4 linked regions of the Homo sapiens genome follow. The protein of the gene in region 3 purifies or fractionates together with the protein of the main gene of each other region. This does not show direct contact. Each region holds a gene or a part of one and is shown on either strand. Other genes may lie near its edges.

Region 1 (7,742 bases), on a different chromosome or scaffold from region 3:
AATTAAGTGAGCACAATTTAGCATGTAATTCAGTTAATTATGCTTTTATATGACGACAGCAACAATGAGAGCATCCCTGTTACTCATAGGTCAGACTTTTGGCAACCTCCTAAAATATAGTTTTTAACATAGGTGATGATAAAAGGCCTCCTGAGGAAAATATCTGTCACAAAGCCCAAGATTTCTATTTCACAGGAGAATCACAAATGCCCTCCAGCTTATTACAGTATCACTTATGTAAGCGGAATGAAATAAAACAGAACACAGTAGCATAGCACATTGATAATGACAAGAAAGGACCACTGACATCAGAAGGACTGGGAAATAAGTCACATTCTGTTTGTTTCTAGTTTTAAACATAGATGAGAAGAACAATTCAGTGAGGGGCAAATAACTAAATATCCTGGAAGGATGTTCTATATTACAGCTAAATCAAAGTAAGACTTGTGGAGAACCAGTCTTCAGGAAACCAATAAATTATATTCATAATGTGTTTGTCTTTCTCATTCCAAAAAAATGATTTAGGGCAGTATTCCATGTTTGCTAAGTAAACTTCTTCCCTAAACAACACATTCAAGGAAAACTATCAAAAATGCTTAAAGCTTTTTATTCCGCTCCATCACCCAGGCTGGAATGCAGTGCCGCAATCACAGCTTACTGCAGTCTTGACCTCCCAGACTCAAGTGATCTTCCTACCTCAGCCTCCTGAGTAGCTGGGACTACAGGCATGTGCCACCACACCAAACTAATCTTTATATTTTTGTGGAGAACGGGTTTCACCATGTTTCCCCGGCTGGTCTTGAGCTCCTGGGCTCAAGTGATCCACCCACCTCGGCCTCTCAAAGTGGTAGGATTACAGGCTTGAGCCACTATGCTCAGCCTTAAAGCTTTTTTTAAAAAAAATAAAAACGTGTGGGAGTTTATGAATAAAAGCTTAACCTATTAAAAAATAAAACAATTTATGCCAAACCTTTCATTTCCCAATAACAACGTTTAAAGACAGTATTTTAGGCCGGGCATCGTGGCTCATGCCTGTAATCCCAGCAGTTTGGGAGGCCAAGGCAGGCGGATCACTTGAGGTCAGGAGTTCAAGATCAGCCTGATCAACATGGTGAAATCCCATCTCTAGTAAAAATACAAAAATTAGCCGGGTGTGGTGGTGCACGCCTGTAATCCCAGCTACTCAGGAGGCTGAGGCAGGAGAATGGCTTGAACCTGGGAGGCGAAGGTTGCAGTGAGGCGAGATTGCACCACTGCACTCCAGCCTGGGTGATAGAGGGAGACTCTGTCTCAAAAAAAAAAAAAAAAAAAAAAAAAGACAGTGTTTCTTTAATTCCAGCTGTAAACCTTAATATAAAATTTACAGCAAAGTTTAAAGAAATAAAAGCACTTAAGTATTAATCATACTTATTCCTGCTCAAATGTCAACTGTGACACACTAGTTAACCACACTATGATGTTCAGCTTTTTAATTTTCTCTCTCAAGTTTTAATGTGACTGAGAACTGGCTTGATATACTTAATGCAATTTCTAAAAGAGATGTCAAAACCTATAAAAACAGACATTTATTTATTGTATTATATGGCTAAAGTGTTGATTCTGACTTAGATTTAACCTGTATTTATCATAGAACCATTCCAATTATATCTTTAGAGAGCTCTGCTTGCCAGAAATTAACTTGCTGAGATTTGGTTTCACATGGATATCCTCAGACATACAATCTAACAACATTTTCTCCAAAACCAAAGAAGAGATAAAAATAATCATTAACTGTTCACTGTACTTAAAATATTTGATGTACATCTGGTCATAATTCTTTTCTAGGTTAAATGTCACTAAATCAAGAGAAAATTATTCACAATTTGGTTTTAACCCAGGACATCATATATATTATAAATATTACATATGTAATAAGAAAATATTGGCTGGGCATGGTGGTTCATTCCCGTAATCCTAGTGCCTTGGGAAGTTCAAGGCAGGAGGACTGCTTGAGCCTAGGAGTTCAAGGTTCAAGGCTGCCATGAGCCATGACTGCACCCTGCACTCTAGCAGTCTGAGTGAAAGAGATATTGTCTCAAAAAAAAAAAAAAAAAAAAGTTGCTCTGGAACTCTGGGGCAACAACAACCAAAAAAAAAAAAAAAAACCCCAAAATATCATGCCTTGTAAACAATACTATTTTCAATGAAAATTTCATTTGTGGGAACACAAAAGGCTATTTCACTGAAAATTCCTACTACCAGTTCTTTTGTATACCCCCAGGAGAAAAAAATCCTCCTTTAAAAAAAAAAAAACGGAAATGCCTGGATGATTCACTAATAAGAAATTCTGTGGCTTACTTACCCTGATATGTCAGAGTAGATTGCAGTATCTACAAAGTATGTTGGCAAGAGATGAAAAATCAACAGTAAAATGGCCTTGCATCCTAACCCTTGTGTCAGCCACAGGTCAAGAACTGCAGGTACTGCTGCCCAGTATGTCCCCAGGAATGGCACTGCTCCAAGGATTGCTGCTAATGCTGAAAAAAGAGTAAAAGAAAAACAACTTAACATCATCAGCAAAACACTAACAAAGCAAAAGAATCTAAGCAGTAGCTCCTCCTCAACAACTTCCAACAAAACAAGTTAAATACTCACAAACTCAAATATTAGGGAAATGATATGCCCTATCTAACTGAATTTTCTAGCTAAGTAAAGGCTCAATATCTTAAAATGTGATACTAAAAATCTTTCTAAGTGTGTGTCTTATTTATGGATCTCTTCTTAAGCAATAAAATTCAAGGGTTCTGTAGTTGCTACTATCAATCAATAGTTAATATACGGTCCTATAAATACACCTACAGAACATGTGTCAAAACTTGTACTGAGTCCAAAGCCCAATCAGAAATTAGTTTCTAAACCTCAGCATAATAAAAATAAACAGAAAAAATCCTGAGTTGAAGGACCCTGCTTCAAGGTCATTCCCTTCCAGAGCAGTATGTTCAAGCACTCTTCCTCCATCTGGCTTCTCTCCAAGTTAAGAGTAAAGCAAATGTAGTTTCTAGTTCTGGTCCTACCAGAAGCCAGGTACATGACCTTGGAAAACTGGTCTCTCATCTATATGACAAGTCTACCATCCCGCCTCACAGGGTGCTTGCAGGTCAGAGGGTAGGTTTGTGGACATCACAGTAGAGAAGAACGTGAATGAACTTGACAATGTAGAAGGAAGCACAGACAAATAGGGAAAGGGGGGGATGTGGTAGAGGCAAATGTGGAAGGCAGAGATATTTAGGAAAACAAGCAGCCATAGAAATAAAGGAAGGAAAAGTAGAAGAAGCACCACAACAGATCTTAAGAGGTATGGAGGCAGCTTATGTGCCCTCAGAAGCATTCATCTTGCCCTGGGATGTAATCCCTCATGGACAAAGCTATTTTGACAACAAGTTGCTCCCTGCCAATCAGTTCAATTCAAACGTTACTGAGAGCCAATTATGTCCTAGGTGTTATGCTAAGTGCTAGAACATTCATTCATTGAACAAACATGTAGGGCAACTGATACGGGTTTGGATCTGTGTCCCCACCAAAATCCCATGTCAAATTGTAATCCCCAATGTTGGAGGTAAAACCTGGTGAGAGGTGACTGGATCATGGCGGGTGGATTTCACCCCTAGGTGCTGTTCTCATGATAGTGAATGAATGAGTTATCGTGAGATCTGGTTGTTTAAAACTGTGGTAGCACCTCTCCCCTCTCTTCCTCCTGCTCCAGCCATGTAAGACATGCCTGCTTCCCCCTTACTTTCCACCACTATTATAAGTTTCCTGAGGCCTCCCCCAAAGCAGGAGCCACTATGCTTCTTGTACAGCCTGCAGAACCGTGAGCCAATTAAACCTCTTCTTTATAAATTACCTAATCTCAGGTATTTCTTTATAGCAGTGAGAGAACAGACTAATACAGCAATTTTTTCTATGTGCTGGGTATGGTTCCAGCTGCTGGGGATACAGCAATAAACAAACACATTACAAATCATATTTCTGTTCCTAATGTGGACTAGATTCGATCTCAAGCCAAAAAATTTAGTTTTTTAAACTTGAGGAAGTAGACATTTCCTAGATGTATGTAAAATGGCTTAACTTTCCTTAAATAGCGAATAGTGGAAGGTACAATATGGTTGTTACCTGATGGTATGAAGACAATATTGATGCCAAACATAGTATGAGTCAGCCAGGTATACAATCCATAGAAGCCAGCCATTTTGAGGGAAGCATCAAACACCCCTCTGGAATGCCCAAAGATAAAAAGAAAGAGTAAATAAACAGTGTCATATCGTGATTCAGAAAAATCACGTGACCACTTGATTCCAAATCATGTAATAGCTTCAGTTTTTCTGCTGGCCTGAGAATGCTATTTTCATTTTATTTCAAAGAAACATAAACACCTTACTTTAAATACATTTACTAAGTTATTCTTTATGTAATATGAAATATGTTTTATTTGGAAATATGTTTACTATTCCTTAAATTTCTGATGAAAAAATAACTGAAACACCTTAAAATACCCTATTCTCTGAAATAATTCATCAACTTTTCACTCTGAAGCAGATATTTCACCACCAAAACAAATGGAAAGAAAATTAAGCGTGAATAACATGTTTCCAAGAATACAGTTTAAACTCTAAGAAACCCAGGCTGTGGCCAGTCCTCCCCTTTTGGAAAGAGCCAATAAGGGATAGTGTAACTTGTATTTCACCATCTTTCTTTGCCTTAACAAAATCTTCCTATGTTTCTTAAACTATGTAACTAAGCCTACAAAGTAACATCTCTTACAAATGCTATCAAAGAAAGTAGGTCATTGGGAGAGAATTTGTGGGAAAAAAAATATTCCTAACTCCAAAGTAAAATCAGAGAGGAAAATACAAGAGAGATAAAAACAGACACATATATTTGGTGACTAATATAGGAATTCAATACATGAAAATCTGCAATGTCAGGTGCTCTGTGTTTTTCAGTTGGAAGATTAGTAAGGCAGTGCAGCACTATAAGGAGGGGAAATAAGGAACTGTTCAGAGAGCACAAAGGTGGCAACCCGTAAGTAATCTCAAGGCAGCACAAAATCATAAAAACCTGGACTCTATGGGGTGGTGCAGAGGGGTGCAGGGAAAGCACCTTCATATGGTCACTACAGAAGAAAAGCTGTAGTTGAAAAAGAAGACGTTAGCGGCAAACGTGACCTTGTACATGCAAAAAGAAACACCAAGCTTTTCTAAAGCATCCCAAGAGGTATACTGTTAGGAGCAAAGTGAAGCCCTGTAATCTAGTGATTTAGTCATTTAGTAGTGTTCTGGGACATGGATCCAGGGGCAGAGTGGCTCCCCAATTGTAAAACCTGCTTTGTCATCCGGACCAATGGCTTTCACTAGAGAACGTCTTAAAGGAGCCATATGACTCTGCAACAAGAACCCAGAATAAAGTGGTATCAAAAATACCAAAAGGAAGCGAAAGACCCCAAAGAAAATACCAAGGATCTGCTCAACAACTAAACAGAGAGGACAGAGCAAAAAGAAAACAACAGAGCTTCAGGTTTTAAACCTGAAGGGGAAAGAATAGCAGTGTCTCAAAGTCATGGAGAAGGCCAGAATGGAAGAGGCATGCAAGAAAAGGGCAGTTTGTTTAGTATGGGCAACAGGAACTCAAAAAGGATGATGAAAATACCCTAGAGGTAGCTGAAATAAGAGACAAGGCTTAATAGAAAATTCAGAACAAGACATCTGAGACGCACCAGAATAATTATAAAAGAGTACAGGACATCTTAAAAGGGCAAGTGGAGAGAAAATAGGGCAACAGGTTGTGTTTTCATAAAGGACCTAAAGACAAAGAAATACCAGCCAGAGAGGTAATGAAATCATTTCCGTAGTAGGAGGAAAATCACTAGAGTGCAGTATTCCCGGAGACCAAGGGAGAAGGTAGGTTTTGAGGGGGAGGGAATAATGACATAATCGACCACAGAGAAAAAGAAAGGAAAAAAGTATAGAATTTGTCTAGAACTAGGGAGGTCAATGAGGAAAAGATAGAGATGTGATCCTTTCTTTAACCTTATGTTATTTAAAAAATTTAAGCCAAAAATAAGTTGACATCAAAGGTGCAACAGAATACTGCAACTCAATCACCCCTCTGGGTGGCAAGTAACCAAGGCTCAATCCAGTAAGGACCACGTGGAGAAGACAGCAGTCTTCTTTCTTTCACTGCTGAGAATATTGGTTGCTGGTAATGTTCTCAAGGCAACTTTTAAATGCACTGTATATTGTTTGCAGTTACTAAACATATTCATGTAACCTAGTGAGGGATGAAAAGACAATATATTCCCCTCTACCTCATTACTTGTGATCTGGCACACAAGTTTTATAAATAAAACAGCAGAGAAAAATCCTCTTACAATTTACCAGAAAACAGAATTTAACTCCCTCAAATTCCTAGCAACTTTTTCTTCTTTTTTATATCAGCTTTATTAAACTATGATTTACAAATAATAAAACTCACCAATTTGAAGCATTCAATTCAGTAATGTGCACAAATATATACATTCTATAACCATCATTACAATCAAGATGTAGAATATTTCCATCACCCCAAAAAGTTCCCTCATGCCCTTCTATTGTCAAACCCTCCCTAAACTCTGGCCTCTGATGGCCACTAGATATGCTGTCACTATAATTCTGCCTTTTCTAGAATTTCACGTAAACACAACCATACATTATATAGCTTTGTATTAAATTGTGGCAAAATATCCATGGCACAATATTTAGCATCTGAATCATTTTGAGTGTGCAGTTCAATAGTGCTAAGTACATTCACGTTGTCGTGTAGCTTTTGGTGTTTCTTTCACCTAGCATAATGCTTTTGAGCTTCACCAACATTGTTGAGTATATCAGTAGTTGGTTCCTTTTTTACTACTGAGTAGTATTCCATTATGTAGATCTACTACAACTTGCTTATCCATTCACCAGCTGATGGGCATTTGAGGTGTTTCCAGTTTGGGGGTATTATGAATAATGCTGCTATGAACATTTGTGTACAAGTCTTTGTGGACATATGCTTTCATTTCTCGTCTGTAAATACCTAGGAGTGGAGATACTGGGTCATACGGTATCTATTTAACTTTATAACTAATATTAGCTTTAATCTCTCAATTCCGAAAAAACTAATAGTCCACGGACACCAACCCAGAAGCCACTGCCTCCTACCTCACCACATATCTCCTCAAGGTATGAGGTTAAACCTCACAGTTTCATGTGAGTGGATGCTGGCAGGAAGAACAATTCAACCCATGAAAAGCTAAATGACAATGCATCTGAAGCACCTAGTAACTGACCTAGTGCACAGTAGATGCTCAATAAGCAGTGGCTATTAGTAGAAAATGTGGTGTGTGCACAAGGAAATACTATTCAGCCCCCCCAAAAGAAGGAAATCCTGTCATTTGCGACAACGTAGATGATCCTGGAGGACATTATGGTAAGTTAAATAAGCCAGGCACAGCACAGATAGACAAATACTGCATGTGGAATGTAAGAGTTGAACTCATAGAAGTAGAGAGTAGGATGTGGTTGCCATCCTACAAATTTTTTTTTTTTTTTTTTTTTTTTTTTTGAGACTGGGTGTCAATCTGTCACCCAGGCTGGAGTGCAATGGTGCAATCTTGGCTCATTGCAACCTCCACCTCCTGGGCTCAAGTGATCCTCCCACCTCAGCCTCCCAGGGGCTGAGAGATGGTC
Region 2 (7,064 bases), on a different chromosome or scaffold from region 3:
GGGGAAAATAGCTAAAGTAAAATGTAGGCATGCTAAAAAATGATCCTTCTAAAATTCCTTCAGGATGGGGGTATGGTTCATAGGAGAGGTCTAAGTCAGCCTCTGGCTGGGTATAAGAGCAGTGGCCCTGAGAAGAAATATTCATCTGCCAGCCTTCTCAAATGAACTCAGTCTCCCCAGAGTTCCGATTCATTAAAAATGATACAGTTCTGAGTGAAAAATACAGGAATATGTTACCTTATCAAGCGGAAGCTCATGCTGAACATCCCGGATTCTTCCTCGATTAGAGAAGAAAAATTTGGAAAAAGGAATCTGAAAGAAGAAACCATTTACTTCATAACTGAAATGTAAGCAATTGAGGCATCTGCATGTAATTGTAACGATAAAATGAGTTTACATTTATTCTAAAATTATGTCATATATGTATTATGACAAATGGCTAGCCATTTGGATCAAAGATATAACTCAGGCCAAACGATAAAGGGTTAACTATGAAAAAAATATTTGTAACATTTATGGAAAAAAGACTAGTATCCTAAACACAGCTTTTTTTTTTTTTTCTTTCTGTGGAGAATGGGGTCTCACTTTGTTGCCTGAACCCGGGAGGTAGAGGTTGCAGTAAGCCAAGATCACACCACTGCACTTCAGCCTGGGCGATAGAGCTAGATTCTATCTCAGAAAAAAAAGAAAAAAGAATTTTAACGTTTCCCTTCCTTCCTACATTAGAAACTGAACTAAAAGAAATGTCCTATTCCTTCTACTCTTGAACTTTCAAGTGTGCCTTTTTATTCATCAACTTTATTTTCATATTTCTTCTCTATGTAATTTACTTATTATTAAGCACGATCTTTTAAAACTATATCTGGCTTTAATTGTTTGTGTTTTGTTTTGAGATAGGGTCTCACTCTGTTACCCAGGCTGGAGTGCAGTGGTGCCATCTTGGCTCACTGCAACTTCCACCTCCCAGGTTCAAGCGATTCTCCCACCTCAGCTTCCTGAGTAGCTGGGACTATAGGCGCACACCACCACACCCGGCTAATTTTTTTTTTTTTTTTTTTTTTGGTAGAGACGGTGTTTCACCATGTTAGCCAGGCTGGTCTTAAACTCCTGAGCTCAAGTAATCTGCCAACCTTGGCCTACAGGTATGAACCACCACACCCTGCCTAAATAATTATACAGAAGCTCTCCAGGATATATTCCTAAATTTTAAAAACACAAAAAACAGGTACAGAGTATGCTAATTTTATTTATATTTTGAGTTTAACAAAGGAAGAAAATGGCTGGGCCTGGTTGTGCATGCCTGTAATCCCAGCACTTTGGGAGGCCAACACAATAGGATCAACTGAGCCCAGGAGTTCAAGACCAGCCTGGGAAACACGGTGAAACCAAGACTCTAGTAAAAAAACAAAAAACTTATCCAGCCATGGTGGTGCATCCTTGTAGTCCTGGCTATTCAGGAGGCTAAGGTGGGAGGATCACCTGAGGCTGGGAGGTTGGGGCTACAGCGAGCCCATGCTGCACTCCAGCATGGACAACAGAAGAGAGACCCTGTCTCAAATAAGTAAATAAATTTTAATGAACATAAATAAAAATGAATTATACATATTAATAGTTATTCCAGTAATTTTATCTCTAGGAATATAGCCTATGAAAATAGTTAAGGATGTTTACCTCAGAGTTTGTTCCGACAGTAGAAAACTCTGAAAACAATCTAAATCTACATGTACATAATGAAGAACAAGTTAAGAAAAAAAAATTTTTTTTTTTGAGACAGGGTCTTACTCTGTCACCCAGGCTGAAGTGCATGCAGTAGGGTGATCTCAGCTCACTGCAGCCTTGACCTCCCAGGCTCAAGCAATCCTCCCACCTCAGCCTCCTGAGTAGGTGGGACTAAAGGCACATGCCACCACACTGGGCTAATTTTTGTATTTTTGTAGAGACAGGGTTTTGCCATGTTGCTCAGGCTTGTCTTAGACTCCTAGCTTCAAATGATTCACTGCCTTAGCCTCCCAAAGTGCTAGGATTACAGATGTGAGCCACTGGACCCAGCCAAAATTGTTGTCTACTTATATAATATCATGCAGACATTAAAAATGATGTAGAAATATATTTGAAGAGAAAGTTGTAAACAATAGTTCAGTGAAAATACTGTATATATGTTATAAAACACCACTGGAAGGGAAAAGTGTGACTAGAAAAGTGTAGAAGATACATATTAAAAATAGTATTTTTGTGCCAGGCGCGGTGGCTCACGCCTGTAATCCCAGCACTTTGGGAGGCCAAGGCAGGCGGATCACGAGGTCAGGAGATCAAGACCATTCTGGCTAACACGGCGAAACCCCGTCTCTACTAAAAATACAAAAAATTAGCCAGGTGTAGTGGCAGGTGCCTGTAGTCCCAGCTACTCAGGAGGCTGAGGCAGGAGAATGGCGTGAACCCGGGAGGCGGAGCTTGCAGTGAGCAGAGATCGTGCCACTGCACTCCAGCATGGGCAACAGAGCCAGACTCTGTCTCAAAAAAAAAAAAAATAGTATTTTATCTGCTGGGTATGGTGGCTCATGCCTGTAATCCCAGCACTTTGGGAGGCCGAGGTGGGCGGATCATGAGGCCAGGAGTTCAAGACCATCCTGGCTAACACGGTGAAACCCTGTCTCTACTAAAAATACAAAAAATTAGCTGGGCGTGGTGGTGGGCACCTGCAGTCCCAGCTACTCGGGAGGCTGAGGCAGAATGGTGTGAACCTGGAAGGCAGAGCTTGCAGTGAGCCGAGATCCCGCCACTGCAGTCCAGCCTGGGCGACAGTGCGAGACTCTGTCTTACAAAAATAAAAATAAAATAAAATAAAAATAGTATTTTATCACTGGATAGTGGTAGTACAAGATTTTTTTCTGTACTTCCCAAATTGTTTTTATAATGAAGTAGTTATTTTGTATAATAATTCATTATATATATATTACTTAAATACAAGTATATATAATTTGTGTTATATATCTGTATTACTACATATATATGTATGTATTGAGTGCTTATTTTGTGCTAGGCACTAGGACAAAATTCTAGGTACAGGGGAAACTGGTAGGAACAATATAAGCAAGATCTCTGCTCTCACAGAATTTACAGAATTTAGGGCCAGGTGTGGTGGCTCAAACGCCTATAATCCCAATACCTTGGGAGGCGAGTCGGGTGGATCACTTGATGTCAGGAGTTCGAAACCAGCCTGGCCAACTTGGTGAATGAAACCCCATCTCTCCTAAAAATACAAAAATTAGCCGGGCGTTGTGGTACACGCCTGTAGTCCCAGCAGGAGGATCTCTTGAACCTGGAAGGCAAAGGTTGCCGTAAGCTGGAATCACACCACTGCACTCCAGCCTGGGCAGTAAGAGTGAGACTCCATCTTAAAAAAAAAAAAAAAAAGAATTTATATAATTTATGTTCCAGGGAAGGCAGTAGAGTGACAATAAACAGATGAATGAATGAACAAAGTAATTTTAGTTAGTGATAAGTTCTATGAAGAAAGTTATAGGATGGTGGTGTTGAAATAACTGGATTAGAGGGTCCAACTTTAGTTACAGGAATCAGGAAAGGCCTCTCTGAGGCAACTTTTGAGCCGAGAGGTGAATGACAGGAAAGAGAAAGCAGGTGAAGACATGGGGGCAGAGCATTACAGCAGAGCAACACTAAGTGCAAAGCTCTGAGATGGAAATGAGGTTGTTAAATCTGACAGAAAAGGGGCTGGTGTGGAGGAAGGAGGTAGGAGGAGAGATGGAAGATGAAGACAGGAGGAGAGATGGAAGATGAAGACAGGGGTCCGATATTGTAGGCCCATAGGCCATGTGCAGGAGTTTGGACTTTATTCTTTTTTTTTTTTTTTTTTTTTCTTGAGATGGAGTCTTACTCTGTCACCCAGGGTGGAGTACAGTGGCGCGATCTTGGCTCACTGCAACTTCCACTTCTCAGGTTCAAGCGATTCTCCTGCCTCAGCCTCCTGAGGAGCTGGGACTACAGGCGTGTGCCACCACCTGCTGCTAATTTTTTGTATTTTTAGTAGACACAAGATTTCACCATGTAGACCAGGCTGGTCTCAAACTCCTGACCTCAAGTGATCTGCCCATCTCAGCCTCCCAAAGTGCTGGGATTAAAAGCATGAGCCACCTAGCCCAGCCTGGACTTTATTCGAATTGTAATGGGAAACCACTGAAGGGTCCTGATATGGTTTGGCTGTCTCCCCACCCAAAATCTCATCTTGAATTGTAGTAATCCCCATGTGTCAAGGGAGGGACCAGGTGAAGTTAACTGAACCATGGGTGTGGTTTCCCCCATACTGTTCTAGTGACAGTGAGTTCTCACAAGATCTGATGGTTTTATAAGGAGATTACCCCTTCATTCGGCTCTCATTCTCTTTCCTGCCACCATGTGAAGGAGGATGTGTTTACTTCCCCTTCTGCCATGATTTTATAAGTTACCTAAGGCCTCCCCAGCCCTGCAGAACTGTGAGTCAATTAAACCTCTTTCCTTTATTAATTACCTAGTCTCAGGTATTTCTTCATAGCAGCAGCACGAGAACAGACTAATACAGCTTACATGCTTAGGAGGTACATTTACATGCTTACAAGCATGTAAATGATGTCATCTGAACTATGCTTCAGAAAGATAACTCTGGCTGCTGTGGAGCCAGGATTTTAGTGGGGCAAGAAGACAAACAGGGAAATCAATAATGAAGCTGCTGCAATAATCCAAACACCTGGACCAGGGTGGGAGTAGAAGAGATGGCTAGAAATGGTCAGCTGCTGAGTGTATTTTGGAAGCAGAGGTGACAGGACTCGCTAATAGACTGGATGTGGGGCAAAGGAGAAGAATTCAGGATGACCCTCAAGTATATGACATGAGCAAAATGGGGACTTTCTTGTTGAGTTTTTTTTTTTTTTTTTTTTTGAGACGGAGTCTTGCTCTGTTGCCCAGGCTGGAGTGCAGTGGCACGGTCTCAGCTTACTGCAACCTCCACCTCCCAAGTTCAAGCAATCCTCCTGCCTCAGCCCCCCTAGTAGCTGGGATTACAGGCACACACCACCATGCCCGGCTAATTTTTTTTTTTTTTTTTTTTTTTTTGAGACGAAGTCTCCCGCCCAGCCTGGAGTGCAGTGGCACGATCTGCAAGCTCTGCCTCCCGGGTTCACGCCATTCTCCTGCCTCAGCCTCCTGAGTAGCTGGGACTACAGGCACCTGCCACCAAGCCCGGCTAATTTTTTTTGTATTTTTTTAGTAGAGACGGGGTTTCACTGTGTTAGCCAGAATGGTCTCCATCATCTCCTGACCTCGTGATCCACCCGCCTCAGCCTCCCAAAGTGCTGGGATTACAGGCGTAAGCCACCGCGGCCGGCCTTTTTTTTTTTGAGATGGAGTCTCACTCTGTCGCCAGGCTGGAGAGCAGTGGCCCATCTCGGCTCACTGCCACCTCTGCCTCCCAGGTTCAAGCGATTCTCCTGCCTCAGCCTTCTGAGTAGCTGGGACGACGCCACCACACCCAACTAATTTTTTTATTTTTAGTAGAGACAGAGTTTCACCATGTTGGCCAGGATGGTCTCGATCTCTTGACCTCGTGATCTGCCCACCTCGGCCTCCCAAAGTGCTGGGATTACAGGCATGAGCCACCGCGCCTGGCCTCTAATTCTTGTATTTTTAGTAGAGATGGGGTTTTGCCATGTTAGCCAGGCTGGTCTCAAACTCCTGATCTCAGGTGATTTACCCACCTTGGCCTCCCAAAGTGCTGGGATTACAGACATGAGCCACCACGCCTGGCCTAGGACACTACTTTTTTTTTTTTTTTTTTTTTTTTTTGAGACAAAGTTTGGCTCTTGTTGCCCAGGCTGGAGTGCAATGACACGATCTCGGCTCACCGAAACCTCCGCCTCCTGGGTTCAAGCAATTATCCTGCCTTAGCCTCCCGAGTAGCTGGGATTACAGGCATGCGCCACCACGCCCAGCTAATTTTGTATTTTTTTTAGTAGAGACAACAGGGTTTCTCCATGTTGGTCAGGCTGGTGTCGAACTCCCAACCTCAAGTGATCCGTCCGCCTTGGCCTCCCAAAGTGCTGGGATTACAGGTGTGAGCCACCACGCAGGCCTAGGACACCAACTTTAGCAGAGTTGCCTGGAAGACATGAAATGGCAGAAACTTCTAAAAAACAAACAAACCCCATCTATTTGGACACAGAGCAGAGATGTGCCTGTGACTTAGCATGGACCTGGCCACATCCATATCAAAAATATTCACTAGTTAGTATGTTAACATTTATATTAATGAAACAAAATTCATTTATGTCTCTTAACCTTTCTTCTACCCACCCACCCCCACCTTCCAAGAAAGATTAGTAACAAAAAAGAAACTACAATGTAACAATCATCTCCAAGACTTTTTTTTTTTTTTTTTTTTTTTTTTGAGACAGAGTCTCATCTCACTCTGTTGCCCAGGCTGGAGTACAATGGCACGATCAGAGACTAGGTTTCACCATGTTGGCCAACCTGGTCTCGAACTCCTGACCTCAGGTGATCCACCCACCTCGGCCTCCCAAATTGCTGGGATTATAGGCGTGAGCCACCTCACCCAGCCAAGACCTCATTTTTATAAACAATGAAGATTTATGCTGTTACCTTGACCTCCTGCCAGTAGGGTCCCCCGCGGGTGAACATGAAGTAACTATACATCTGATTCGTCCTCTGGAAGAAATCTGTGTCCTCCTTGATATTCACCATCCAAGGCCGACCATCCCCACGTACACGGAGATACAGAGTATTGAACTGGGACCAATCGTAAGACATCTTCCTCTCAAAAGCACCCTAAGATATTGAAAGTAAAGTTCATTGTACCTCATTCTCCATTATTAGCAAAATGTGAGTCATCACCAAGTCAGCATCATCAACAGGATGCACTAACCATTTTTCTGACTTTCTGCCCCATAAGAAGGCACATAAACCCAGTGATTATTATTTTAGCACAAAATACTGACATAGTTATATGTTTCTAAGGTAATGTTCAACACACAACTGGCCCAGGACAGTGTTTACAT
Region 3 (7,742 bases):
TGTGTGATAAGTGCTTAGTTAAGATGGAAGAGGAAGTAAATTTATAGGTGAAGGACAAAAGCAGAAACATGTTCCGACTGATGGCAATGTGTTGCACCAGAAGGCACTGAGCCTATACAAAGATTTCAGCAAGGAATCTCCTGAAACCAGAGACACTGAGCCATTTACTGCAAATAAAGAAAGGTCACACAGATTGAGGATTAGGTTTGGACTAAAAAATATAAAATTACTGGAGAGTCTGTGTCTGCTAATGAAGAAGCTGCTGTCACATTTCCGGCAGAGTTGAAGAAGCTGATTAAGGAGAAAGGATACCATCCAAACAAGCTTTCAATTGTGATGAAACTGGGCTCTTCTGGGAGAAGATGCCTGAAAGAACTGACATTTATCAAAGTACAAAGGAGGCATCAAGGCATAAAACATGGAAGGACAGATTAACTCAGGTACCGTGTGGTGACACTGCAGGGCATATGACAGAGCCAAGCATAGTGTACAAAGTGAAGAATCCATGTGCCCTCAAAGAAAAAATGAAAAATTATCTGCCCAAATTCTGGCAACATAATTAGAAAGTATGGGTGACAGCTATCTTGTTTATGGAATGGTTCCACCAATGCTTCATCTCCCAAGTGAAAAACTACTTGGAAGAAAACAGTTGAAATTTAAAGTCCTATTAATAATAGACAATGCAGCTGACCATCCTGAATCTGTTTGCTATGAAAATGAAAATGTCAAGGTTTTACTTTGACCTGCAAATATAACCTCATTGCTTCAGTCCCTTGACCAGTGCATCATCTGGTCAGTCAAGGCCACATACACTTGCCTAGTATTTAATCACATTTGATCAGCAATCGATGCAGCCCCTAACATGACATAATACAGTGCTGGAAATCACTATTGCTGATGCAGTAACATTCATCAAAGCTGCAACTGATGAATTAAAACCAGAAACTGTAGATGTCTCCCTGAAGAATGTTTGGAGTAAAGTTATGAATGATTTTAAAGGCTTCTTGGGGATCAGCAGAGAAGCCAGGAAAATCACACAGCAAGACAAGTTGGTGGAGAAGGATTTGCCAATATGCTTGATGAAGAAGTAGAAGGGCATACTGATGGCCATCAAGAAGTGTTAATAATGAGGATATGGAAGAATTAGAGTCATCTACAGAGGAAGAGGAAGATGAAGAAGAAAATGAAGCAGAATCAGTAACGTGGCCATTACCAAAATCTGCTGAAGTGTTTCAAATGGCACGGACATTAAATGTCAAAATTATAGAATATGATCCTTAATGGGGCACAGTATCAAAGTCACCCATATGATCACTGAAGCACTACAACCTCTGCAGCAATACTTCAATGAGTTAATAAAAAAGAGACAACAACTTCCAGTTACAATGTTCTTCCAAAAGGTTTCAGCAAAATAACCTCCAACTATCAAGGATCCATACTCATCGACATCGTGATGGTTTTGCAGTCCAGGATCACCTGAAGTAGACAATCCCCCTTCTGACATATCATCAGAAGATCAATAGTAGCCTTAACACTACATCACAATGCCTATGTCATTCACCTCACTTCATCTCATCATATAAGCATTTTATCATCTCATATCATCACATGAAGAAGAGTGGGTATTCCAAGAGAAAGAGGGACTACATTCACATAACTTTTATTACAGTATTGCCATAACTGTTCTAGTTTATTATTAGTTGTTGTTAATCTCTTACTGTGCCTAATTTATGCATTAAACTTTATCATAAGTATGTATATATTAAAAAAACACAGTATGGGCTGGGCGCAGTGGCTCATGCCTGTAATCCCGGCACTTTGGGAGGCCGAGGTGGGCAGATCACCCTAGGTCAGGAGTTCGAGACCAGCCTGACCAACATGGTGAAATGCCATCTCTACTAAAAATACAAAATTCGCCAGGTGTGGTGGCACATGCCTGTAATCCCAGCTACTTGGGAGGCTGAGGCAGGAGAATCGCTTGAACCCAGGAGGTGAAGGTTGCAGTGAGCCAAGATCACGCCATTGCACTCCAGCCTGGGCAACAAGAATGAAACTCCATCTTAAAAAAACAAAAACAAAAACAAACAAACAACAGTATGTATAGAAAAAACACAGTATTTATAGGGTTCAGTGCTAGCTGTAGCTCTAGGCATCCACTGGTGTTCTGGGAACACATCTCCCTTGGATAAGGGGGCTTGCTGTAATTTTAAAATCAGGTACCAAAAGAAGACTCCAAGGTTTCTGGCCTACTGAAGCCATTTATTGAAATAGGAGAGACTGTAGAAGGAGAAGGTTTGGTGCTACGGGGAAGGGTAAGTATGCAGTTGTGAGAGTTTTAAAAGTTAGTCTTCAAGTTCTTTAAAACTCCTCTCATCAAGAAGTAGAGATGAATTCCTCTCCTCTTGAATAAGGACTAAACTTAGTGACTCATTTCTAACAACAAAATATGGCATAAGGGATACCATGTGACATTTGAGACAGTATCATAACAGGTGATAGAGCTTCCATCTGACTTTCTCTCAGAATGCTTGTTCTTGGAACCCAGCCACCATCTACTGAGGAAGTGTAAGCCACAATAAGAAGCCACATATAACTGTCTTGGCCAGTAGCCCCAGCTGTGGTCCTAGCTGAAGCCAGTATAAACCACCAAACTTGTGAAAAAAGAAGCTTTTGAGATAATTCCAACCCCAGCCACCATCAGACAACAGTCACATAAGACTCTAGGAGAGAAGAGCATAGTTCAGTCCAGTCCACTCCCAGAACAGTAAGAATTAACAGTAATAAATGATTGATATTTTACTCTATTATATTTTGGGTAGTTTGTTACACAGCAATAGCAATGGTATCACAATTGCACTCTTAAAATTATTCATAGTATCTTTCATTACTCAGACAAACATCAGTAGGAAAACAACTCATTTTCTTTCTTCAAAATTATAATCAAATTAATTTTTTTAATCTAAGGTAGCAAAGTCTTATTATTATATTGTGAAAACTTGTAAAATATTGAAGAATTACTATTTAGCATATAATAAATTTTAACAGGCATCAAACCAGCTGTTAAATCTTATAGCTAAAGACAAAATTGTTATCAACATAAAAACTGTGCATAAAACTGGGCAATGAGCAAGCATAATCATCAAATAAACATTTTATACAAATAAAAGGAGTAGGCCAGGCACGGTGGCTCACGCCTGTAATCCCAGCACTTTGGGAGGCTGAGGCAGGTGGATCACGAGGTCAGGAGATAGAGACCATCCTGGCTAACATGGTGAAACCCTGTCTCTACTAAGAATACAAAAATGAAATTAGCCAGGCGTGGTCGTGGGCGCCTGTAGTCCCAGCTACTTGGGAGGCTGAGGCAGGAGAATGGCGTGAACCTGGAAGGCAGAGCTTGCAGTGAGCCGAGATTGGGCCACTGCACACTCCAGCCTGGGCGACAGAGTAAGACTCCGTCTCAAAAAAAAAAAAAAAAAGCAAAACGAAAACCAAATAAAAGGAGTAAGCATGTATTAGCTTCATTAGTGAGGACACCATGAAAAAATGATTTTCAGTAACTACACAAAAAAAGTAAATGAATTTGGTAGAAGAAATATTGAGTTTACACATTCCAAATGCAAAAATGCTAACCAGAGAAAGCTGGCATTAATTTGAGAGCAGTAGATGATGTTAAATACAGAATAAGATGAAAAGTTCTAGTGAAAAATTTTTTCTGTTAAAATATTTTTCAGTAACTGATTTTTAAAATGAAAATGTTTCATAATGAGTATATAAAATATTTAGAGAAGTTATTTAGAATTTATTTAGAAATTATTAGACTAGAGAAGTTATAATCACATATAAAATTAAAGAATCATCAGATAGTATACTAAATCACACTGGTATACAAAACTGATCAAACTGAATAATTAATCATTGCTTAGGAAATAAAAATTGTAGCCAGAAAAATAGATTAGTTCTTTAGAGTGACCTGAATAAGATGAACAGTAGCAAACAGGAATTATTGCCTTGTATTCAGTAATTATCATATGTATGGGATATCACTACGTACACCCTTCACCTACAGTCACATATACCACATTCTCATTCACACTCACCATCATCTTGTTTTATGGTTATATAAGTACGTACACATATATACATACACACATATATATGTGTGTATACATCTGTATATTTATATGTGCACACAGTATGTATATACATATATAAATATCCATGTGTATATATGTTTATAAGCCCATTAACAGACATGATAATTACACAAAACCAAAATGTCAAAAAAAAAAAAGAACTAATAAAAACATTACTAGATGTTTCATACCTGAAGTTGTAGGTACTTCCACAGTAATACTACTATATGGTGGAGGGGAAGAGTCAGTTTCAAGTGCTGGTGCTGAAGACGCAGCCTGCACAATCTGCGGTGCTGGGTTTGAAGTAGGTGGCTGCTCTATAGCCGATGATTCTGAGTTATCCTCTTCATTAAGAAGCTAAGAGAACAAAAGAAAAACAAAACATTAATGTAATGCTAATTATTTTTTAAATTTTAAGCTGATTTTATCATTTCAGACACAGTATCGCTTTTTGGCCAAACACAAAGAAAATGGCATTTTTAGATAGTATACAAAATCACACTAGTATTTCAAAGTTTTTAAAAAACAATTTGTAAAGACTTAGTTATTAAGAAGTTCAGAATTTTCAGTTTCTTTACAATAAAGAGGAAGGTCAAATTAAGAATTTACAAAGAAAATATCATGATTCAAAATAAATACAAATTCATATGATCCTAAAGTAGATATCAAAGGTCTACCACATCCCTTGGATAAGGGGGCCTACTGTAATTTTAAAATCAGGTACCAAAAGAAGACTCCAAGGTTTCTGGCCTATTGAAGCCATTTATTGAAATCGGAGAGACTGTAGAAGGAGAAGGTTTGGTGCTACGGGGAAGAGGAAGTATGCAATTGTAACAGTAGAGTTATTACATACTACAAAGAAAAGCAAAAATCCTAATAACATAGCCACAATACCATCTCTACTACCATCTCTTCCTACTTATGAGCCTCCTGAAAAAATGTGTGAATCTAGAATAATCAGAAATGAAAGCTGAATTAATGAAATGGAATAAAACAGATAAACATTCTAAAAATGTGGAGTACGCTAAGTAGGTTTTCCCAAGTACAAAAAAAATTATTAAAGCAAGGCTGGGCACAGTGGCTCACACCTGTAATACCAGCACATTGGGAGGCCAAGGTGGGTGGATCACTTGAGGCCAGGAGTTTGAGACCAGCCTGGCCAACATGGTGAAGCCCTATCTCTACTAAAAATACAAAAATTAGCTGAGTGTGGTGTCGCACACCTGTAATCCCAGCTACTCGGGTGGCTGAGGCAGGAGAATTGCTTGAACCCGGGAGGCAGAGGTTGCAATGAGCCAAAATTGCGCCAATGCACTCCAGCCTTGACATTGTCAAAGTGACAGAGCGAGACTCCGTCTCAAAAACAAACAAACCAACAAAAAAATTACTAAAGCAAAATAAGTTGATGTGTATATAAAATTCTAGCAAATGCTCTTCGTCTCAACAAATTCCTTGAGAGTTAATAAATGCTAATAAAATGTTGAGATCTTGAATTACTTAACTGAATCTCCACAACAACCTAGGAGATCCTAGGAGACAGAGACTGTTATTATCACCAATAAAAGGAAAACAACAAACAGGAAGTGCAGAAGCTAAAGTAACTTGCCATATGTCACAACAGTAAGAAAGAGTAGAGTAAGGAATTAAAGCCAAGCAGTGTGACTGAAGACGTTTTACTTCATTTATGGTAAACTTTGAAATGGCCATTCCTCACGAATTGGTAATAACTACATGCAGACAAACTAAGATGAGTCAAAGGCATCAATACGATAAAAAGTGATTCATCAAGAAGTACTTTGATCCTTAAATATATTTGGCAAAAAGTCTTATTAAAAATTTTTAAGATACTTTTAAAACTGGAATCTCTATTTCAAAAGAAACTACTAGTTTTCCATATTATTTAATTTTCATATTTTAATTTATTCCTGTTACTCTAAGAAATTCAATGTTAAAAATAATCTCCCAAATAAATTTTGTCACAAAGCTAGTATACATACCAATTTGAATGTGATGTAGCAAAATGAACATGAATTTTGGAATTTAGAAAGAACAGCATGTTGGACTGGGCACAGTGGCTGGCACCTGTAATCCCAGCACTTTGGGAGGCTGAGGGAAGCGGACTGCTCGAGCTCAGGTGTTCAAGACCAGCCTGGGCAATATGGTGAAACCCAATCTCTACCAAAAAATACAAAAAATGGTCAAGTCTGGCATGTGACTGTAGTCCCAGTTACTAAGGAGGCTGAGGTGGGAGAATCACTTGAGCCTAGGAGGATGAGGCTGCAGTGAGCCGTGACCACGCTACTGCACTCCAGCCTGGATGACAGGGTAAGACAGTGTCTTAAAAAGAAAAAAGAAAGAAAGAAAAAAGAAAGATCAGCATGTAAATTTTTGCTCTACCTTTTAGGACCTCTGATAAAATCTTCTCCATGTCTTAGTGTTCACCTATTAGCTCTGAATGCAGCCAAAATCCTCATAGGCTTGTAAAATAATATTTGGAAAGCATCTAATATAACAACCAACACACTGAAGGATTTAACAAATACTATTCTCCCACTTCTTCCCTTTTATTTAGTTTATTTCATCACCTTAAAGAGAAATTATGTGGTACTCTCTAACAATCCAATCAGTAGTCACTCATCTCTGAAATAAATAAGTAAATGCAAAGTAAAACAAGAGGTCAATTTACTACACATTGCTTTTTCCATGTCTTGGTAAATGATCACACTAGCAAAACATTTTTGTGAGATAGTGAATGTATTATAACTTAACAAAACTGTCATAACCATGCCTAAAATCATTTATGAAGTTACTAAGACCACTCTTTCCACAAACATCATAACATTAAGATTTACATAATGAGATCAATTCACATAAATTGAATTCAAAAACCAAATAATCGTAAGTGAATTTTATGATTATGAGCCTAATGAAGTTTATATTTCTTGCAGCACTTTTCCAAGTAGGCACTAAATGACTACCCTCTTGACTAGTGACATGTTGCACTTGGTATTACCATCCGTCTCCCATGTCTTCCTACTACATGGTACCCAGGAGAATTCCTCACTTAATTATCTTTAACTGATAATATTTTAAGACCAAAAATGTTAGATCAGCAAGGTAAGCCCAATAAAAGTTAATACAGATGTCTACTTGTTAATATCACCTAAACAATTAATTGTGAAGGTGTCAAAAAGGGAAAACCACTTTTCCACATCTCTTATTAAAGCTGCAAATGCAGATACAGCGAGCTTTACAAACGAAAAATCTTATATGCAAAACAGCACTCTTCCAGTTTCTCAAAAAAAACACTCTTTACTACATTGAATACATAAATGTGCTCCCCAGAATGACCAACTTACTTTCAAAAACTGTCAAAATTTACTCAAATAACTAAAATGAAAGGAATAACTACAAACACTTTTATATATAAGCTCCAAAATAAAGCTTTGGAGCCTATAAAACATGCCCTAATTTATTTCAACTGCCCTAGCTAACACCTACGGTTTTGACAAAATTATAATATGTGAATATTACCATGCATCAACAGTAAAACCCACTAACTCAGTCAACAACCTCTGCCTACTGTAGCATATATAACTTTCAATTTAC
Region 4 (7,742 bases), on a different chromosome or scaffold from region 3:
TTGTCCATTGTTTATAAAATCATTTGCCTTTTTGATCTAAAAATTTTAATACTTGAATTTAACAGGTTTTTCTTCTGGACAAGTTCTTTGGCATTCAAGTATAATCAATACTTTCAGAGTAGTCACCTGCATCACACTGGAGTGACTGCTTTAATTTCTAAATCATCAATTAGTGTAACCCAGGGATACTGATGGCCTTGATACATAATTTAGTCTTAGTGTGTGGAAATCAGGGTTTTGGGGGGCATCATCTGACCCCATTTCTTTTTACCACAATGGTTCCTGCTACAATGTCATAAGCTGTTCGATTATGCTGAAAAAACAGCAGTGTGATGAAAGCAGGGAAAAAAGAAGCAATTGAAAAATTCTTGATCAAAGCTCGGATAGTGGACCTAAAAAGTTAAAACAAAAATATCAGGTAAGTTACACATCAAACCACATATAGATTAATGGTATCCCATCAAGTTCAAAATAGACATTTAAAACACAATTGTACTTCTCTACAGAAGTCTACAGGGAAAAAGACATTCAAGGTATAGTTGAGAGAATTTTTACCTTTGATATATTTTCAAGTAGCACTGTATCATGATCAAACCACCTGGGCTATTTCTAATAAGACTTCAACAACATAAAAAGCAGTAATAAACATGTCTCAGAATATTGAATTAATGGTTTACAGAGCTTTCTAGTATTTTCTCAGAAGAAATGAACATTAATTCTGAGTACTTTCTGAGTATGCTTACTGTAGTCCCATTTGTCTACCTTATAGAAAAAACATGCATTTTAAAGTACTGTGTGTTCTTTAATCAGCATTTTCCTTTGTGGGATCCAGTGATTAAGCAAAGCTTTTAAAAGCTTTCAACAATCACTCAGGATGGAGAATTATCCTACTTATGTTAGATTTCTGCCTTTTAGTGCACTGAAGGGCTGCAGAAAAGTACAGTGGCTAGGAGTGTGGGTTCTGAATCCAGACTAGTTAAATTCAGATCCATCGTCTACCAATTACTAGTTGTATTCCACATCTGCAAAAAGGGAACAATAGTATCTATCTTATGATACTATAGATAGTATATAGATACTACCTATAGTATATAGATACTACCTATAGTATATAGATAGAGACTACCTATAGTATCTTATGATACTATAGATATAGATCAATAGTCTCTATCTTATGAGGTTGTTAGCATTAAATTAATACATATGCAGTGTTATTAACAGTGCAGGTATATAAAAAGTACTCAATAAACATTAGCCATTACTGACTCTTATTAAAAGAAGTAGGTAGGTTTATAACTACCAGTTTTGTTTTGTTTTTTTTTTTTTTTGAGATGGAGTCTTGCTCTGTCGCCCAGGTTGGAGTGCAGTGGTGCAATCTCAGCTCACTGCAAGCTCTGCCTCCCGGGTTCATGCCATTCTCCTGCCTCAGCCTCCTGAGTAGCTGGGACTACAGGGCCCGCCACCACGCCCGGCTAATTTTTTGTATTTTTAGTAGAGACGGGGTTTCACCATGTTAGCCAGGATGGTCTCGATCTCCTGACCTCGTGATCTGCCCACCTCAGCCTCACAAAGTGCTGGGATTACAGGCGTGAGCCACTGTGCCCGGCTATAACTACCAAATTTTAAGAAAAATTTGAAGATGGCAAAACCAAGGTTTCTAGAATCACTTGTTTATATTTCTTGATGTAACAATCCAGCTCTGAATCATTCTGGCAAAAATTGCAGCCAATACCTTGTTTGGCTCAACTGACTACCAGCCACTGACCTCCACAGTTTCCATTATCACTGGTTGTACCTTCCCCCAGCGCTAGATGCCAACAGCTAACCTTGAATACTGGCAGTATTACAAGCTCTCACCTAACAGCAGGAGAAGGATGCACGAATGCATAGCTGTCAAAACTCTGCTGCCTATTCAAGATGGAATAATGACAGGCATGGCCAAATGGAGACTCAAGGCAGACTAGTACCTGACCTAACATCCACAGGTCCAAAGAATAATAAAGCTGATTGTGGAGCACTAATACACCATCAACACCCAAATCATCCTCTCGTATTGTGACTTATAATTCATAAAATGATCATCTTGAGGCAGGGCATGGTGGCTCACGTCTGTAATCCCAACACTTTGAGAGGCGGAGGCGGGTGGATCATGAGGTCAGGAGATCAAGACCATCCTGGTTAACACGGTGAAACCCCGTCCCTACTAAAAATACAAAAAATTAGCCGGGCGTGGTGGCGGGCACCTGTAGTCCCACCTACTCGGGAGGCTGAGGCAGGAGAATGGCGTGAACCTGGGAGGCGGAGCCTGCAGTGAGCCGAGACTGTGCCACTGCACTCCAGCCTGGGCAACAGAGTGAGACTCCGTCTCACAAAAAAAAAAAAAAAAAAATCATCTTGAAAATGTGTACTGTAAAAGAGGTCTACAATCATGTAACACAACTGAAATAAATATTCAAACTTTGTTTTAACTTAATAAATATAAGCCTATCTACTATGAAGAAAAAAACCCCAATATTCTAAAACACATTATTTTCATTAAGTATGTAGTAGATTAAGCTAAGAAAAGGACTTACGTTGTAATGCTAACATTTGAGGAAGGAATCACTAAAACCCGACTTGGTGCAATAAGCACTGATGTATCACATGTCACAACTCGAAGCCCCAGCAGGAACTTCCCTGGGGTAGCTCCACCTGCTCCCCAAATGCAAATTATCTAAGGAAAGAAGGATGATTTAAAAATTACTGGCTCAACTATACCAATTTTAAAGATAAACTTTTCCCACCATATTATTTCATGTTTTAAATTTTTCAAGTTGAAAGAATTGCATAGAATACTCAAAAGTTAACCATTTAACTTTATGCATTTCTGTAGGTCTCTAACATGTCCAATACCACAAGATGTCTGTCTCCTGTAATATTTCTCTATGACTACTATACTTTCTAGTAAGCTGCTTCTGCAGAAAACTACATTGCAATTTACAAGTATATTTTTGGACCACAATCTATAAGTGAAATTTTATTTGAGTTTCTAAGACTGAAAAATATTACAAAGAAATTGTAAAATGTCTCTCTTCCAAAAGTTTTTACTTAATGATTAGTTAAAATTTGGGAAAAAAAACAGAAAAGTAGACATGTGGAAAAGACATGAATAATTATAAATTTCGATTACTTTTTCGTCTTGGGCTGATAATCTAAAATTAGATTGTTGGCTAGGTGCAGTGGCTCATGCCTGTAATCCCAGCACTTTGGGAGGCCAAGGTGGGCAGATCACTGAGGCCAGGAGTTTGAGACCAGCCTGGCCTACATGGCAAAACCCTGTCTCTACTAAAAATACAAAAATTAGCCAGGTGTGGTGGTATGCACCTGTAGTCCCACCTACTCAGGAGGCTGAGACAGGAGAATCACTTGAACTCAGGAGGCAGAGGTTGCAGTGAGCCAAGATCACACCACTGCACTCCAGCCTGGGTGACAGAGCGAGACTCTGTCTCAAAAAAATAAATGTAAAAACATAAAATTAGATTGTTAAATATTAATTCTTGCTGAAGTCAGTAGCTTACCTCATAGAAACAAACTAATAATCTGTATATAAGTGCCACAACCATCATTTTCTGCAAGTCTTCCATTGATGTGTCTTCATCTATTTCTTCTATTATATAATGCATAGCAAACTTAGAGATATCCCTACACAAAATAATAGTTTGGGGTTATAAATAATTAGTTACCAGAACAGTAGCACTGACTTTTTTTTCATTAGTGCAAGTCATACATTTTAATTGAAATTCTAAACTAATCTTTAGATTCCCAACCATCTAGTATCATAAAGCATTCATTAGTTTATTCAACAAATAAGCAGCATTATCATGAGCAGACACTGTACTAGCACGGGGGAAATAAGGGTGAATGAATTTACACGGTCCCTGCTTTCGTGGAGGGTCTAACCTAGCAAAGAAAACAGAACAATAAATAAATAGCAATAATAAAGTGGGATGAGTGCTGTGATGGGGAACCTAGGATACTATGGAAACATACACCAGATACACTTAACCTTGTGAAGGTTTCCCAGAAAAGACAGTTAGATGAGGCTCTGAAGGATGAAGAGAAGTTAGCCAGACTAAGAAGAGGAAATAACGTTCCAGAAAGAGGGAACAGCAGGAGAGAATGTCTTGGAGAAAGAGAGAATATGATAGAAGCTGTAAGCAGTTTGGTGTGGCTCATATACTAAATGTGAGAGGTGGCAGTGATTAAGAAATAAAGGCAGGGTGTGGTGGTATGCACCTGCAGTCCCACCTACTTGGGAGGTTGAGACAGCCTCCTGAGTATAAACCACATGATGAAATTCAGACTTTATCCTGCTGGTAAAGAGAAACCATTGAAGGGGCTGAGCATGGTGGCTCACGCATGTAATCCCAGCACTTTGGGAGGCTGAGGTGGGAGGATCGCCTGAGCCTAGGATTTTGAAAGCAACCTGGGCAACACAGACCCCATCTCTAAAAAAACAATAAACATTTTAAAAAGAGAAACCATTGAAGGGTTTTAAGGTAGGAAAGGAACAGAACCAGGATTTATGATCACTTTGGTTTTATATCAGAGACTGGATTGAGATAAAACAGGAGACTGAGTTACCACTAGAAGGCTTCTGCTATAATCCAAGCAAGAGACGACAGTAATCGGAGTAGGGAGAAGCAATGATGATAAAAAATGGGCCAGGTGTGGTGGCTCATGCTTGTAATCTCAGCACTTTGGGAAGCTAAGGCAGGAGGATCATTTGAGCCCAGGAGTTTGAGACCAGCCTGGGCAACATAGGGAGACCCCATCTCTACAAAAAACAATTTTTTTTTTTAATTAGCTAGGCATGGTGGAGCATGCCTGTGGTCCCAGCTCCTTGTGAGGCTGAGGTGGGAGTGTCACTTGGGCACAGGAGATCAAGGCTGCAGTGAGCCATAATTGTACTACTGCACTCCAGCCTGGGTGACAGAGCAAGACTCTGTCTCAAAAAAAGAAAAATGATCTGGCAGTGAGGAGGTCTGGGGTTGAAAGCTATTCAGAAAATTGAACATAAAGGAGTTGGTATTTCACTGGATGTGGAGTGGAGTGAGAGGGAGGGACAGGGAGGAATCACAGTAACAGGTTTCTGGCAAGGACCCTGAAATTTGACTGCACAGGCTTGTATCTTGACTCTGTCACTTACTACCTTTGTAACATTTTAGGTTCTGTGCTCAACTTTTCATAAACCCAAATTTCAAACTCTATAAAATGGTGGTATTAATCTCTACACCTCATCTTGGTATTAAGATTAAATAAGAATCCACATAAAGAAGTGAGCAAGCTCAATACATGGCATATAGAAAGTACTCAGGAAGTGGTAACTGCTATTATGATTATTGTTAATCTGGAAGGATTACTCAAATAAACGTCTCACTTTGAAGTTCACTTGGGACTTGCCCCACAGTATGTGCAATCCCATTTGGAAATGCCATCTAGTTGATTATTAATTCACCTACCAAAAGCTCTTTATACCTTTGTCTTTAGAGACTCCACAAGATAGCAAGAGGGAACAGGATAGTGAGAGGTAAATTAGTTCCTGGCCTAAAAGAATAGGTGAATAAAATCAAAGCAGGTTTGGAGGCTCTTTTTACCTATTTTTGATAGGTGAGATTCCCACACATCTTATAGAATTCAGTAAGCTATTTTTTTTCCTTTCTAGTTATTTCTTAAAATCAACAAGAAAACAATAAATCTAACAAAGCTCTTATAAAGAAATCATGACACTGACAAGCCCATTATCCATATAGTCACGTGTAGACAAACAGAATGTAATAAAACAAGATCATTAAACAGTAGAAATTAAAACCCTTCTGCAAATGTCCTCAACTTACTTTATCCCACTGAGGTGCATAATGCTTAAGACAATGGTTGCTTTTATAAAGAAGAGAATAAAGAAATCCACCATCTCTGCCATAAATCTGTGGGCCAAGGATGGAATAACATATTCTCTGCCTGTAAATTAAAAAAAAAAAAAAGTTAGGAAAAACGAATCATTTCACATAAGCCTTGGAACACAAGCCATGTAATGAATTGCTAAAGAAAGTCAAGGTACAACTTAATAAAAAATATTTATAACCGTGCAGCAACTATTGATATTGATTCCACCAAGAATCCATGTTACTAAAATAGAGTAACAGAGAATCCACTATTTACTGAGCTTAAAGTTTGCTTTCATCACCTTAACGTTTAAAAATTGATTTCACACGGCCAGGTGCAGTGACTCACGTCTGTAATCCCAGCACTTTAGGAGGCCGAGGCGGGCAGATTGCTTGAGGCCAGGAGTTCGAGACCAGTCTGGCCCTGGCCAACATGGCGAAACCCCGTCTCAACAAAAAATACAAAAATTAGCCGGGCGTGGTGGCGCATGCCTTTAGTCCCAGCTACTAGGGAAGCTGAGGTGGCAGGACGGCTTGAACCTGGGAGGCGGAGGCTGCAGGGAGCCAAGATCGCCACTGCACTATCCAGGCTGGGCGATAGAAGCAGACCTTGTCCCCACCCTCCCCACTTTCCCCCTAGAAAACTGATTTCACAGATAAATTTGATTAGGGTACCCACTACATTTCACTAGGAATTCTAATGAGGAGAATCCAGGTGATCACATCTAAGTCACACAAAATTAAACATTTTTTAGTACAAATCAAGGTTAAATATTGGCAATTAGTATAAAGTAAATCCCTGTAATCCCCCCCCACCCGTTTTTTAGTTTGTTTTGCTTTCTTTAAAATAAACCCAGTGAGTATCAATCTGTCATCCTAAATTCTGACTGGGATCAGAGGCATCAACTAGTTCTTGTCCCATCTATCTGTGGCTAACTAAAATAAACTAAAAGTCTAATAGTTTAAATAGTAAACTAAGAAGTGTAACTAATTCAAAATATTCTAGTTCACACACAGAAGCAAAAACAATTACACAATATACAAGATATTGATCAAATGAAGTGAAGCTTTGACCCAATCAAAACTTCCTAACTCCACTTGTATCCATGTCGATCTCCTTTTATATCCGTTCAGTTCCACTGTCCTAAGTAGCCAATGTCTGAATAATTTTCAGCATTACCAGTCGAGCCCCTCCAAAAGTGGGTTTGCCATTTGCGAATTTAGCTTTGGCCCTCACTGCAGAGCGTGAAAACCAAAGGAAGAGGATGGTTTGAAGAGCAATTTCTTTTCACGAATAAACAACTAGTCCCATGAGTAAGGGAGTCAATTTGGAGTGCCAGGTCTAAAGGAAGAAGAAACTGTATTGCCTCCTTGTACATTTTGGGAATTTAGGGCCTGGACAAACGATAGCTAGTGAACTGAACGGGCAGGATAGTCAATCAGAGTAGAAGCAGCAGTTACAGGTCTAAAAAGCGTGCCAGCTCTACCCCACAGGCCCCCGAAAACCCTTCTACTCCGCCCAGCCTCCACCTCGCGCTTCTCACCTGCCTGTCGCCCGGTCTCGCTCGGGCTTCGCGAAGGGGCTGCGGATCCTACCCTCGTCACTGGAGTGGCCCGGACCGACGCCTGCACGTGAGGAGCCCGGGGTCCCAGGCCCGCGACTGGAGCAGGGGTGCTGATGCCGGCAGCTGTCCGCGGGTCAGGCCCCGCGGCCCCGGGGCTCAGGAAGTAGAAGGGGTTGTAATAGCCCAGCTGCGGGGGCGGCGGCGCCGCGGCCTGGGGGACTGCAGCGCCGCCCGAAGGGAAGCTCTGCGGGGAGGG

The links.
Region 1: the proteins of NDFIP2 (region 3) and TMEM245 purify together in Homo sapiens (affinity purification with mass spectrometry; one large-scale study listed by BioGRID and IntAct). This does not show direct contact.
Region 2: the proteins of NDFIP2 (region 3) and NDUFAF1 purify together in Homo sapiens (affinity purification with mass spectrometry; one large-scale study listed by BioGRID and IntAct). This does not show direct contact.
Region 4: the proteins of NDFIP2 (region 3) and FAM8A1 purify together in Homo sapiens (affinity purification with mass spectrometry; 2 studies listed by BioGRID and IntAct, with this or other methods). This does not show direct contact.

What each region holds. Positions count from the first base shown.
Region 1 is NC_000009.12:109,033,865-109,041,606, forward strand, and holds part of TMEM245 (transmembrane protein 245), read right to left. Parts: intron 4,254-7,742; coding exon 4,153-4,253; intron 2,517-4,152; coding exon 2,342-2,516; intron 1-2,341.
Region 2 is NC_000015.10:41,388,211-41,395,274, forward strand, and holds part of NDUFAF1 (complex I intermediate-associated protein 30, mitochondrial precursor), read right to left. Parts: intron 6,835-7,064; coding exon 6,649-6,834; intron 6,149-6,648; exon of another isoform or gene 5,895-6,148; intron 313-5,894; coding exon 238-312; intron 1-237. UniProt on the Homo sapiens protein: As part of the MCIA complex, involved in the assembly of the mitochondrial complex I.
Region 3 is NC_000013.11:79,517,558-79,525,299, reverse strand, and holds part of NDFIP2 (NEDD4 family-interacting protein 2), read right to left. Parts: intron 4,491-7,742; coding exon 4,325-4,490; intron 1-4,324. UniProt on the Homo sapiens protein: Activates HECT domain-containing E3 ubiquitin-protein ligases, including ITCH, NEDD4, NEDD4L, SMURF2, WWP1 and WWP2, and consequently modulates the stability of their targets. As a result, may control many cellular processes.
Region 4 is NC_000006.12:17,600,845-17,608,586, reverse strand, and holds part of FAM8A1 (protein FAM8A1), read right to left. Parts: coding exon 7,466-7,742; intron 5,998-7,465; coding exon 5,877-5,997; intron 3,682-5,876; coding exon 3,558-3,681; intron 2,714-3,557; coding exon 2,574-2,713; intron 393-2,573; coding exon 248-392; 3' UTR 1-247. UniProt on the Homo sapiens protein: Plays a role in the assembly of the HRD1 complex, a complex involved in the ubiquitin-proteasome-dependent process of ER-associated degradation (ERAD).